Linked DNA regions of Homo sapiens: region 1 is linked to region 2. The links come from fine-mapping of genetic effects on gene expression. A gene starts in region 2. The other region holds a variant in brackets. All regions are shown on one strand. Distances are from middle to middle. Region 1 overlaps SEC23IP (SEC23 interacting protein). Region 2 holds the start of SEC23IP (SEC23 interacting protein).

The links. PIP is the estimated chance that this variant, and not a neighbour inherited with it, causes the effect.
Region 1: its variant is the best candidate, but not a certain one, in a credible set for the expression of SEC23IP in regulatory T cells (Bossini-Castillo 2019, PIP 0.57).

The regions. Positions count from the first base shown.
Region 1 is chr10:119,940,855-119,943,776 of GRCh38, reverse strand. SEC23IP (SEC23 interacting protein) reads right to left here. Exons shown (of 19, transcript NM_007190.4): 19 at 1-2,922. Among named protein-coding and RNA genes, the nearest start is that of MIR4682, 16 kb to the left of the region's middle. The variant A/C (reference allele first, on the strand shown) is at 1,515.
Region 2 is chr10:119,891,455-119,894,376 of GRCh38, reverse strand. SEC23IP (SEC23 interacting protein) reads right to left here and starts at 1,647. Exons shown (of 19, transcript NM_007190.4): 1 at 1,432-1,647. The coding sequence starts at 1,594. RefSeq lists enhancers at 1,399-1,909, 1,910-2,420, 2,421-2,922.

The DNA.
Region 1 (2,922 bases), 49 kb before region 2:
ATATTGAAATATGTGAAACTCATTTCACTTAATCTGAAGCTGAAAGAAGTATTAAAGAGCTGGAATTATTTCCCAAACTCCCACTGGTGTTAACAACATGACATTATTTTCAGTGTTCTCTGGGACCAATACATTCGGGAAATCTGCAAGAGTTGCTGTTTTATTTTTTATTCATTTATTTTTTTTTGAGACAGAGTCTCGCTCTGTCACTCAGGCTAGAGTGCAGTGGCGAGATCCCAACTCACTGCAACCTCCACCTCCTGGGTTCAAGCAATTCTCCTGCCTCAGCCTCCTGTAGCTGGGACTACAGGCACATGCCACCATGCCCAGCTAATTTTTTTTATTTTTAGTAGAGATGGGGTTAACCCCCTGAGGAGTATTATAGAAATGTCATGAAGACAGGTTAGCTGACAGTCTGTCCCGTGCACCGCAGGGACAGTCAACAGCAGGAACACAATGTCAGCACCCCAGCTCATAGAGGAACTGAATTCTATCCACTCTCCTCTGAGGACCCAGCCCTGGGAAACTGACTCAAACTAAGCTGGAATGCCAACTTATTAAGTTACAATGAGAACTATAACTTGGAGGAAAACCAAAACACTCAGTGTCTGCAGTTCAAGTTTCCACCAGAAAGCTGCTTGGTAAACACTAAAGTACAGCATTAAGATAGTTAGATGCCTCAAGTCATAAAAACCTGAAACAATGGTACTATAAATACCAATCATCCTAGGTTTTCTGGGATAATCTTCAGTACTCTTATCATGAGACCAAATGCTGTGAGTTACTATTTCAAATACATGATCATCCCTGCCAAGATAGCGGCATCTCCTCCTTTTCATGTACAGGGTTCTATATAGATCACACCTTTCCAATAACATACTTACCTCAAAAATCACTCGAATCTGTGCAGTTTCCTTGTCTTATACTGTGGTTTTGAGAAAACATGCTTGTCTGGTTGGATTCAAGAAGCACGCGTGTCCAGCAGACTTAGAAAGCAGGTTCCTCTTGTCATACAGCACGTTAACATAGCTGACGAGGCCTGGGTGTCTTCATCAGTACTGTGATGACTCTTTCACCTTTGACTTCAGATGCTGGCGCTTTTTACTTTTTGTGCCAAACTCTACACATGAAACACTTTTGGAATAACTACAGACATGACTTTCTTTATCTGGGGAAAAGGAGGGCATTAAACCAGATTAGGGGCTGGGAGGGGAGGTTGTCAGGGGATGAGCTGCTCCTGAGGAAGAGGCAGAGATCAAGCTTCACTCAGCAGCTGGATTCTCACCTAGTTTATAGACTGAAATCCTGCAAGGTGGTTACAACAGTGAACAATATGTTCATACATAAAGACTCTACCCTCAGGGGATCTACTGTTTTTTGGTTTTTAAGAGACTGAATAGTAATACATACATACATACATATGTGTGTGTGTATATATATATATGTATGTATGAGTATATATATCCACAGGCAGAGTCACTCAAAAATTCTATTTTCTGTGTACTCAAGTATTA[A/C]AATGAAAGGGCAAGACTGCTGCCACTCAGCTGCCACATGCTTCTTCTACGAACCCTGGTCCTTCTCTGCCCATTACTCAGAAGACAGGCTGAATGACACAAACAAAAATCAGATGTAAGTTGAAAAATCAAATTGGATTTTATTGAAATGTATATAAATAACCCTCATTTTTCTTTATTTCATCAGTATTGGGAAATTAAGTGAAAAGTAATTAAAAAGTAGTAGTCCTGAGAGAGAGAAATGAAGGCTGAAAGGGAATCAAGAAAACCATATTCCATCCCAGATCTGCCACTACCCAGTCTGGGAAAGGCATTTATTGTCCTGGCCTCAGCTGTAGAATGAGGTGGCTGAAATCTATGTTGTCTGGAGTCAATTACAGCTCTACAATCTTGCTGTTCTAATTCTACCATTAGGAGCCAATGCTAACGTTACATACTGACCATATAAGCAGGTACTCAAAATGAAAAGGGAATAAACACTGAGTTCATGGGGACACTTTTAAGGAAGACAAGAGAAATACATAAGTTTGCTGCTTAAAAAATGCATTAATGTTACTGCTTTATTCACACTAATTAGAATACATACACAAAAAATGTGTATCATATATCACTTTCAAAAATTTCCATGTTCCATGAGAACTATGTAAACAATGCAAAATGTTTCCACTACGTAACAAAAGAAAATCAGCATTCCCACATAGTATTAGGAAAATATTTGGATAATCTGAATTTATAGTAAAACAAAGTGATCTGAATTTGTAGTAAAACAAAGTGAAATATTACAAAGCAGTCTTGTCATGAAGTAGCCTTATATAACTCAGAAGCAACACATTTCATACTTTCAAACACTTTGGTATAAGTGAAATTAATAGAAAACAAAAAGAAGAAGAAAAAAACCTCTACTTTGGTTTTCACATTATTGGAACTTCAGCAACAAGGCAAGTGCACAGCTACCTTGGATGACAAAATGGAAAACCTCTCATCTGCTTGCTTCTCCTCCTGGAAATGGACGTGCTAGGAGAGCGCTTCCCAGGACTTCTTGAAAATAAGGTGCATCTCACTTCTTTCCACAATCAGGCTCTCAGCAATCGTTTGAGGGATTTATAAAACCTCAGATTCAGTTGGGATATGAGTGATCTTGATTATTTCCTCTTAACAAATATAAATGACCTTGCATTAAGGCAGCTCAGAAGTACAATTCACATTTTAAGTAGAACATAAATCTCTTAAAAATCATATTACTATAGTTTCTCAACAAGTTCATACTTGAATAAAAAGAACATACTGCATTAATAAAAAGAAAAATCCAAGTTTAATAGCCCACTAACAATACTTTTTAAGAAACAGAAATAACCGTTTACATGCTACAAATATTTCTTCATTGATATCACATATAACTTTGACAACT
Region 2 (2,922 bases):
GCTGTTCCCAGTGTGCCTGTCTTCGCTTCTCCATGAAACTGTCTTTCATCCTTCAAACAAGAATAAATTATTCACTGGAAACTCAGCATCCAAAGAGGATCTATGTACTAGGCCCTAAATAAGATCCTGGAGATAAAAAGGCAATTAGGTCATAGCTGCTGAAGAAGACTGCAGTCCAAATGGAGAGGCAGGTGTGTTTATTTCACAAACATTAAATCACACTGTCTGGCACGCACTATACTTAGCGCTTTGCAAAAATTAAAGCATTTCTAATTACAATTCTGTGAGGCTACACATACATAGAAACTGAAGCACAGAGAGGTAAAGTAAAATGCCTACAGTCACACAGCAAGTTACTGGCAGGGCAAGGACTGGAATACAGACAGTCTGTGCTCTTAAACACTATGCTCTGGGCAATGCTACATAATCATCAAAAAGCAATCTCCCTGGACAATAATACAAATATGAAAAAAGAGCTAGGAGTGCACATAGGAGTGGGGGCCTAAGAGAACAAGAAACAGCTTCTTGGAAGAAGTGATGTATTGTCTTGAAAGATGAGGAATGGGTGGGGGGTTAAACCTGTAATCCCAGCACTTTGGGAGGCCAGGGCAGGCGGATCACTTGAGGTCAGGAGATTGAGACCATCCTGGCCAACATGGTGGAACCCTGTCTCTACTACAAATACAAAAATTAGCCAGGCATGGTGGCAGACGCCTGTAGTCCCAGCTACTCGGGAGGCTGAGGCAGGAGAATCACTTGAACCTGGAAGGTGGAGGCTGCAGTGAGCCGAGATCGCGCCACTGCATTCCAGCCTGGGCGACAGAGCAAGACTCCGTCTCAAAAAAAAAAAAAAAAAAAAAAAGATAAGGAATGCATTGTATATGTCTACTTCACAAATATTACAGGCTTCTAGAAGAGGGGCACAGTCCATCTTATAAGATATCTTACTGTAACCTAGAAGATATTGTACTGTATCACAACAATCTCCTAGTAGGAGACAGTGTACCGTATCCTAGGAGAGGGGCACAGTCCATCCTAGGAGGTATCTTACCGTATCCTAGGAGTCTCCTAGTGGGAGACAGACTACTGTACCCTAGGAGAGGGCCACTGTTTAATTTATTTGCATTTCCTGCCAGCACCTGGCGTACCAACAACGGGTATTCAGCAAAGATTTGCGGAATGCCAGGGTACGAATGAATGTCCAGCACTCTGGACAACTCGGAACAGGGGGTTTCCGTGAAGAGCAAGTCTCATCACCTGCCACCTCCAAGATCCCAAAGCCCCCGACCCACTCAAACCTGGCCAGTAATGATCCTGGCAAGCTATCCAGAGGGTAGCTCGAGGCAGAAGGAAAAACTCCCGTCTGACCTTTGTCATTGCACGTCCCCCGCCCGCCTCCCACCACACACGGGGCCGCCCTCCCCTTATTACCTCCCGGTAAGAGCAGGGAGGCCGGAGAAGCGGAGGCCTGGGTGACTGGGATGAAGGGCACATTGAAGCTGAACTCCGTGGCCGAGGAGGAGAAAAGTAAGTTAGTGCCCGATGAGGAAGTGGAGGCGCCGCCGCTGCCACCGTTAGGTTTTCTCTCGGCCATGGCTGCGGCCCACCGTCCGATACACGTCTCCGGGTACCCGGTACCACACCACTGACCGGAAACCGATCACGCTCCTGGCCAGCGCACTTCCGCACTTGCGCACAGGAGCCGAAATTACGGGTAGCTAGTCAGCCGCCCTCTCCCTTCCCCTACACGGCGACGCCAGATATCAACATGGCGACACTGTCTTCACGCCCGCGTCTAGCACGTGACACCCTCGGAGGCGGAGGCCGGGCGGGAGGATGGGGACGTGGTCCCCGCAGGTTCTGGATAGACGTGCGAATTGAGACGCAATTGACCCTGAAAGTCACAGGTTGTGGCGGGTATCTATGGGCTTCCTAAAGGTACCGTCAGGATGGCTCTCCTGACAAAGATTTTGGAGGAACAGCGGAATCCTGCTGGACGCTACCGGAAGGAGGAAGGGAGGAAGAGCGTTGTGCGGGAATGGGAATTCGCATGCTAGGCGGAACCAAACACCCTCTCCAAAACCCACTTGTCTTTCTGGATGGAACCGAACATTGTGGTTGACCCAGAAATAGAAGTGGTAAAACATTTTTTAAGTGTTTAATCCATAGGGAGAAAAAAATATTTCGTTTTATTTTTGTTGTTTTTTGTTTTGCATTTGTTTTTTGTTTTTTTGGTTGGTTTTGTTTTTTGTTTTGAGACAAGTCTGCTGTGTCGCCCAGGCTGGAGTGCAGCGGTGCAGTCTGGGCTCATTGCAATCTCCGCCTCCCGGGTTCAAGCGATTCTCCTGCCTCAGCCTCCGAGTAGCTGGGACTACAGGCGTCCGCCACCACGCCTGGCTAATTTTTTGTATTTTTAGTAAAGACGAGGTTTCACCGGGTTGGCCAGGATGGTCTCAATCTCCTGACCTCGTGATCTGCCCGCCTTGGCCTCCCAAACTGCTGGGATTATAGGCATGAACCACCACGCCTGGCCAAAAAAAATATTTAAAAGAGAAATCAAACCAGACGCCATGGCGCAGGCCTGCAATCCCAGCACTTTGTGAGGCAGAGCGGGAGGATAGCTTGAGCCCAGAAGGTTGAGACCAACCTGGCCAACATGGTGAAACCCCGTCTCTACTAAAAATACAAAAATTAGCCGGGCTTGGTGGCATAGCACCTATATTGCCAGCTACTCAGGAGGCTGAGGCGGGAATATTGCTTGAGGCCAAATTAACCCTGATCTTGCCACTCACTGTGCAGCGAGACCCTGTCTCCTTAAAAAAAAAAAAAAGAAAAAAAAAGAAACCAGGGCATTGAAATTAGAGATCTGACATTTTAGATAGCTTTCTATATCCACAGTAAGCTGACTTACTTCAATCCAGG